Homo sapiens: one gene and its partner. The protein of the gene in region 2 interacts with the protein of the main gene of each other region in a pairwise test. Each region holds a gene or a part of one and is shown on either strand. Other genes may lie near its edges.

Region 1 (3,909 bases), on a different chromosome or scaffold from region 2:
CCAACGTCCTGCGTGGTGTGACCGAGCTCTTTTTTTCTGGCCCCTCCATGTGCCAGCTCTTTGGCCTTGTTATCGCTGTGGCTTGGAGGAGTTCAGTAACCTTCCCCTAGAGGCCACAAGGCCAGGCAGTGCCTGGAGTTGACAGCAGGGACTCAGGAGGCCCCGTGGGCCAGGATTTCCTGGCTGCTGGGCCCATTCCCACCCTCCTGTCCAGGAAGTGGGGGCGAGTGTGTCATGGCTGGGGAAATAGGCCCCCATGCTGTGGTGACTGCCAGGCCAGCAGGGGAGTGGGGATCTGAACCAAACCCACGGGCAACAATGCCTCCTATCCCATGGGGTGCCTCCCATCTGTCAGGGGTCACCTAGTGTACCCCATGCATTGTCTCAGGGGACCGTCACAGTCCTGGGAGGTAGTCTGCTTCCTACCTGCCCCCTTCTGAGGCCTAGAGAGAGGTGACATGCCTGGGGTCCCCCAGGGACTACAAGGCAGGGCTGGTTACGGTTCCCGAGTGCAGGCCACCAAGCCCCCTTGTCTCCCGCTGTCGTTGGGAATGTGCAGGAGGGGTACCCAGCTTCTCTGGCTTGACCGTGGTGCCCTCATCTTCAGGATGGGCCCTAGCTGCCGTGGCCCGGTCTCCCTGGGCTCTGGGTGGGTGGGCCTGCCCTGGGATGGCCCCAGCCCAGAGGTTTGTTTCTGAGCATTGTGTCCTGCTCCTTTTCCTCAGGCAGCCTCTGGGGGCCCCCGCTGGGTTTCTGTGGGTAGGAAGGGTCCCCCAAGAATTGCTGGCTGGTGGCTGACTTGGGATCAGGCCTGCCTGCTTGCCACGACCCCTGTATAATAGGATTGCACTGACCCCTGCATAGGGTGGGTCAGATCCCCGGGGGCTGCCTCCCTCCAGCCCTGCCCCTCTGCACCCCCATCGTTCATCACTGGCCTGGGGGCTCAGGGAGGGCTGGGCCAGACTCCTACCTCAGGGGCTGGCACAGGCCTGGCTCTTGGACGCAGGAAGCGCCGGGCTTTAGTGGGGCGCAGGTCCTGGGTGAGGGTGCAGTGTTTGGGCTGACTCAGTGGAAAGCCTGCCCCACAGGTGGCTATAAGGTGAGAAGTGGGTGGGGAGGAAGGTTGGGGAGACCTCATCAGCCCAAGCTGGAGGCGGTTGCCTAAAACTTCCACACACCCCGATCCTTTCCACACTTCGAGAGAGGCTCTCTGCACCCATAACTCCAGAATCTGTCACCTCCCTGGTAACACAAATGCACAAGGAAAATAATCCAAAGTGTCTCTTACAGCTCAGAAGGGGAAATGGATGATCTGTCTCGCGGATTCTCAAAATAGCTGGGATTTCTCCAAGCCCAGTGAACTCCCTAGGCCTGAGCTGCGGGCTGGGGCCTGCACGGCCCGCTGGCCTCTCACTCTCCTCTAGCCACTGGCTCTGTGCAGGGCGGGGGCTGGGAGGTGTTGTCATGCCTGCCCCTGGGGCTTTCCCTGTGCTGGTGCCGTTGAGGGTTTTGAGGTGACCACTCAAAAGCTGCTTTCAGGGCAGCCTGGCTCCCCGGGGAGACTCCCAAGCCCCCCTCAGAGAAGGTCTGTGGCATGGCTCCTGGGGGGCGCAGTCTGGGGTGGTTTTATATTTAGCTGGGCTGTGGCTGTGGTTGCCACTCGGGTTACATCTGGCACAGAAGTCGGCAGTGCCAGGGCCGGCACGGGCTCCTTTCCAGCACCGCGGCAGAATTTGATCGCGCTTGCCCGGCCCAGGGCTGCTTCCCGTGGGGAGGTCGGTGGTGGGGGCTGACGGCCGGCAGCTGGGGCTGCTGGCCACCGTGGGCAGAGCCGAGTGGCAGGGCTGGTGGCAGGCGGCATGGACTTGAACTTGAGCTTGTTGGCCCGGGAGGCCACCCCAGGCCTCCTCCCTGGCCTCAATGGGCTCCCCAGGCCCACACCCCCAAAGGTGGCCAAGAAACCTAAAAAGGCTGTTCTCTTCTTCGAGGTGGAGATTCTGGACGCAAAGACAAGGGAGAAGCTGTGTTTCTTGGACAAGGTAGGACTGGGGCGTGGGCTGCACTGGGCCAAGGGCACTGGGCCCGGGACCCCAATCCTTATAGCCCAGGAGCTGTCCAGTGGGGCCCTTTGTGCCCCACCCCCTGCCCTATGGAGGGGTATGCCCTCACTTGGGGTAGGGTGGATAGCCATGTCCCCTGGGTGTGGCGGGGAAATGGAGGCACAGGAGTCTCAGTGGACCCTGCGGGGATTTTGGTCCTGGGAGGGCGGTGGAGGAGTGAGCCTTGCCCCTGCTGAGGCCGGGCCTGGGGGAAGGGGCTTGCGCTGTCCCTGGGGAGGACAGAGGGCCTTTGCTCCTGGGAGAGTCATGGGTGAGAAGTGGAGAGGAGGGGCAGAGAAGCAGGCTTGCCTTCCCATGCTTAATCCGCCACTAGCCGGGCTGGGGGCCTGCTGGCTGAGGGTAAAAGTGGAGCCCCAGACCCCTGCTGTCACTGCACTGGCAGGGCCCTCGGTGGTCCTTCCCTGACTGCAGGCAGAGGCCTGGACCCCAGCCCTTCCCCCTTCCCATAGCTACAGCCCAACCCCCAGCCTGCCATCCCCTTTAGTACCTCCCCATCCTGAGTCTGGGCTCCCCGCAGAGCTGACGTCCCTGCGCCTGTGCTTCCCCCAGGTGGAGCCCCACGCCACCATTGCGGAGATCAAGAACCTCTTCACTAAGACCCGTGAGTTCTAGTCCCGGCCACACTGCCCCTGCAACCCCTTTGACCAGGGACCTTAGGGTGGGAGGGATCCCATCCTGCACCCCTCTCCCAGGGGCCTGCAGAGATGCCCCAGTGTGGCCCAGGCTTCTGGGGCGTGACTGGGGCAGGCGCCTCCACGTGGCACTCCGCAGGAACGCCCTTGCTAGGCTCTGGGAAGGACAAGATCCTGCTTCTGCCCGCGCTCTTCTGGCTTGTGTCCTGAAACCGCACAAGCCTGAGGGTTTGCCCCCAGGTGGGAGGAGCTGTGGAGTCCTGGGGTCCTTGCACCCTGGGAACCCTGAGAAGCTGGCACAGTGGCTGGGCAGCGGACCGGCTGAGCCCTGCCAGGCTGTGGGCTGTAACTGCCCTGTTCTCCCCGCAGATCCGCAGTGGTACCCCGCCCGCCAGTCCCTCCGCCTGGACCCCAGTGAGTACAGCTGTCCACTCGGCCCGCCCCCTGGGCTCCTGGGTGGCAGTGGGAGAAGGCCCGGGTAGCCCCTGAGCCCTGGCCCGCCTCTCTGCAGAGGGCAAGTCCCTGAAGGATGAGGATGTTCTGCAGAAGCTGCCCGTGGGCACCACGGCCACACTGTACTTCCGGGACCTGGGGGCCCAGATCAGCTGGGTGACGGTGAGTCCTGACCCTACCCACGGCCTCTTTTCCCGTCAGCCACGTTGGGTGACTCATCTTGCCCCCCTCTACTCTCAGGTCTTCCTAACAGAGTACGCGGGGCCCCTTTTCATCTACCTGCTCTTCTACTTCCGAGTGCCCTTCATCTATGGCCACAAATATGACTTTACGTCCAGTCGGCATACAGTGGTGCAGTAAGTGGGGCAGGTGGGAGGAGGGTAGGGGAAGGCAGAAGACCTGCCGGACCAGCCCCAGCTGAGCCTGCTCCCCCCGACCAGCCTCGCCTGCATCTGTCACTCATTCCACTACATCAAGCGCCTGCTGGAGACGCTCTTCGTGCACCGCTTCTCCCATGGCACTATGCCTTTGCGCAACATCTTCAAGGTGAGAGCCCGTCCCCGCCTCACCCCTAAGCCCCGCCTTTCTGCCCCACCCCGCCCCGCCCCCACCGAGCCCCACCCCAAGGCCCTTCCTGTCTGCCACTACGCCCCAGCAGAGCCCTACCCCTAGGCCCCGCCTAACCTCCCCAGCCCCGCCCTCGC
Region 2 (3,909 bases):
GCATCCTGCTAAGAACTTCATATCCATTATCTCTTTATTCCTTTATAATCTAGCTAAGTAGTTGTGCTGTTCCAACTTTACAGATGAGAAAACTAAGAGTCAGAGAGGTTAAGTAGCTTATCTGAGGTTACCCAGCTACAAAGGAATGAGACACAACCTTTAAACAACACCTTTGTGTATTGTGTACAGACTAAAATCCAAACATGTTAGCAAAGCATCTGAGGCCCAGTGCAATGCCCCAAGCTACCTGTCCGCCTTCATTTCCCACTCTACACTTCAGGTCCTCTTCTTTTTTTTTTTTTTTTTTTTTGAGACAGTCTCGCTCTGTTGCCCAGGCTGGAGTGCAGTGGCATGGTCTCGGATCACTGCAACCTCTGCCTCCCGGGTTCAAGAGATTCTCCTGCCTCAGTCTCCCGAGTAGCTGGGACTACAGGTGCACGCCACCACACCCAGCTAATTTTTTGTATTTTTAGTAGAGACAGGGTTTCACTGTGTTAGCCAGGATGGTCTCGATCTCCTGACCTCGTGATCCGCCTGCTTCAGCCTCAAGTGCTGGGATTACAGGCATGAGCCACCGCGCCCGGCCCAAGCCCTCTTCTTGATGCCTCAACAGATGTCTTGCAATTTCAGATCTCTGTCCTCTAACTCATGCTGTTTCCCCACTTATGCCTACTTAAGTCCTTCACCGCTCAGTTTAAATGCTGTGATCTCTCACAGAAAACTTTCTCTAATTCTCCCTACCTGTCTGTCCTCTGACACATCTGCTTAGCACTTATCTCATTATTTTATTGCAATTGTTGTTTATATATTAATGCCCCAGGTTACCCTGCTTCAAGGACAGGGCCTAAAGTATTTGAAGGACAATGCATTTATATATACGGGCACAAAAGTATTTGTCAGAAAGAAAGAGAGAGGGAGGGAGAGAAATGCTCACTTCCCTATTATGAGCAAGTGCCATAAAAATCCTTACATCTGGCCAGGTGTGGTGGCTCACGCCTATAATCCCAGCACTTTGGGAGGCCGAGGCAGGCAGATCACGAGGTTAGGAGATCGAGACCATCCTGGCTAACACGGTGAAACCCCGTCTCTACTAAAAATACAAAAAAATTAGCCAGGCGTGGTGGGGGGTGCCTGTAGTCCCAGCTACTCGGGAGGCTGAGGCAGGAGAATGGCATGAACCCGGGAGGCGGAGCTTGCAGTGAGCTGAGATCGCACCACTGCACTCCAGCCTGGGTGACAGAGCGAGACTCTGTCTTGAAAAAAAAAAAAATCCTTACATCTGCCAGGCATGGTAGCACTCACCTGTAATCCCAGCTACTCATGAGGCTAATGCAGGAAGTCACTTGAGCCCAGGAGTTTGACGCCAGCCTAGGCAACAAAGCTAAACTCCATCTCAAAAAAAAAAAAAAAAAAAAAAAAACCCTAAAAAATCCTTACATCCTTTAAAGGTGTAATTCTTCTTCCAGGAATTTATTACACTAAGCCACGAATTGAACAGAAACAAATAAAAGCAAAATGTCGTTAGGCGCATGATTTAATCCATTATTGTATAATTAATTCTATACACTCAAATGTAACTGTCAAAAAGTATAATTATGAAAAACAGATGAAAACCTGACAGACTATTAAGTGAAAATGGAAAAATATACAATACAGCAGATATTATAACAGCAATGCTGTAATACATTCACTCATTCATTCATTCAAATATTTATTGAGTACTTCTTGGAGTTTACACTCTAATGGAGATGACAGACAATAAGCATTGCGAATAAGTAAAATATATTGTACAATCATATGAAAGAAAGTGGGATGGAGAAAAATAAACAGGCAAGGGAGATAAGGAGTATGTGTTTCACTATTCAAATTAAGATGACCAGGTAAGGCCTCCTTGAGAATGAAGTTTTGAGTAAAAACTTGGAAGAGGGGGCCGGGCGCGGTGGCTCATGCCTGTAATCCCAGCACTTTGGGAGGGCGAGGCGGGCGGATCACGATGTCAGGAGATCAAGACCAACCTGGCCAACACGGTGAAATCCCGTATCTACTAAAAATCCAAAAAAAATTAGCCGGGCGTGGTGGCGGGCGCCAGTAGTCCCAGCTACTCAGGAGACTGAGGCAGGAGAATGGCGAGAATCCGGGAGGCGGAACTTGCAGTGAGCCGAGATCTCCCCACTGCACTCCAGCTGGGTGATAGAGCAAGACTCCGTCTCAAAAAAAAAAAAACAAAAACAAAAACAAAAAAACTTGGAAGAGGTCAAATATTCATATGAAAGATAAAAAGAAAATGAAAGTGTGTGATAGGCTGATAAAATAACAAGCTGTATTTTACATTTATGTAAAATTTTATAATATTTCTTAAATACTATTCCGTTGCTTTGCAATTTGGGGTGTGTGTGTGTGTGTGTGTGTGTGTGTGTGTGTGTGTGTGTGTGTGTGTTTTGTTTTTGAGATGGGGTCTCGCTTTGCTGCCCAGGCTGGTCTTAAACTACTGGACTCAAGCAATCCTCCTGCCTCAGTCTCCTGAGTAGCTGGGATTACAGGTGCATACCACTGTTCCCCACTTGTTTTGAAAATTATTACAAAAAAATTAATAAACACGCCAAAGTTCTGTTAACAGAGAAATAAGTTAAATGAACAAAAAGAGCCTCAACTAGTCTTCTGCTGTCCACCCTATAAAACGTGTAAGTTCTTGTCCCGATTTCAACACTACAACTTCTTCAACCTTATTTACCACTATTCCCCAACAGCACCCTCCAGTTCAATCAAGAGAATACATCAGGCTTGCATATCATGCCTATTTCCAGAATTTATATCACCTGAAATGTCTACTCTCTATGTATGCAAATCTTATTCCTTCTTCAAATCTCACCGCCTCTAGAAAGCATCTGAAGAGTCAGTTACAGAGATTATTCCATTTCAATATCCCTTATTTTTGTAAATATGACAAGGAAACTTCTCAGTAGAGGCAGAAGGAGACAAGTTTAGAACAAGCCCTGATTTGCCGGGGAAGGGTCAGAGGGACAGAATGGAGAAAGCATTTAATTCTGCACCAGGTAAGGCAGGAGACCCGGAAAACTTCAAAGAGGTAGATTTGATTAGAAGTCATGGGAATAACAGGAGAACATTATACAAAAGTGAAAAACCTGAGCACAGAAGCAGAGCGCTGTGAAAATACATGGTGCTTTGAGGGACGAGTGAGTCAGAGATATCAAATGCAAGTTGACTGGAAAGGGGAATCGGGAGCAGATTGCAAAAAGCCTTGAATGGCAGATAGCCTGAATCCCTTAGATCAGGGTGGAGGTGGCAGGGAGTCACTGAAGTCTTTAAACTGGAGCTATGCATTGATGTTCATTTTTGAAATATCAGTTGGCTTTCAAGACAGAGAGTCAACTGAAAAGAGAAAGGACAGACACCCAGTTAACACAAGGCAGATATTTCAAAATGTTCACTGGCTGGGCACGGTGGCTCACACCTGTAATCCCAGCACTTTGGGAAGCCATTGTGGGAGGATCACTTGAGAACATCCTGGGCAATATAGCAAAAACCTGTCTTTACAGAAATTATTATTATTATTGTTTTATTTTTTTGTGTGAGACAGAGTGCAGACTGGAGTGCAGTGGCACGATCTCTCAGCCTCCTGGGTTCAAGCGATTATCGTGCCTCAGCCTTCCAAGCAGCTGAGATTACAGGCCTGTGCCACCATGCCCGGCTAATTTTTGTATTTTTAATAGAGACGGGGTTTTGCCATGTTGGCTAGGCTGGTCTCAGGCGATCCACCCGCCTCAGCCTCCCAAAGTGCTGGGATTACAGACGTGAGCCACCGTGCTCGGCCTACTCTACAAAAAAATTTTCAAATTAGCTGAGGATGGTGGTGTGCGCCTGTAGTCCCAGCTACTCAGGAGGCTGAGG

What was found.
Region 1: the proteins of HACD1 (region 2) and TECR interact in binary tests that used the Homo sapiens proteins (3 or more experiments, as listed by UniProt).

What each region holds. Positions count from the first base shown.
Region 1 is NC_000019.10:14,560,537-14,564,445, forward strand, and holds part of TECR (very-long-chain enoyl-CoA reductase), read left to right. Parts: intron 1-1,988; coding exon 1,989-2,039; intron 2,040-2,604; exon of another isoform or gene 2,605-2,637; coding exon of another isoform or gene 2,638-2,669; coding exon 2,670-2,721; intron 2,722-3,121; coding exon 3,122-3,166; intron 3,167-3,263; coding exon 3,264-3,367; intron 3,368-3,445; coding exon 3,446-3,561; intron 3,562-3,645; coding exon 3,646-3,751; intron 3,752-3,909. UniProt on the Homo sapiens protein: Involved in both the production of very long-chain fatty acids for sphingolipid synthesis and the degradation of the sphingosine moiety in sphingolipids through the sphingosine 1-phosphate metabolic pathway.
Region 2 is NC_000010.11:17,610,711-17,614,619, forward strand, and holds part of HACD1 (very-long-chain (3R)-3-hydroxyacyl-CoA dehydratase 1), read right to left. Parts: intron 1-3,909.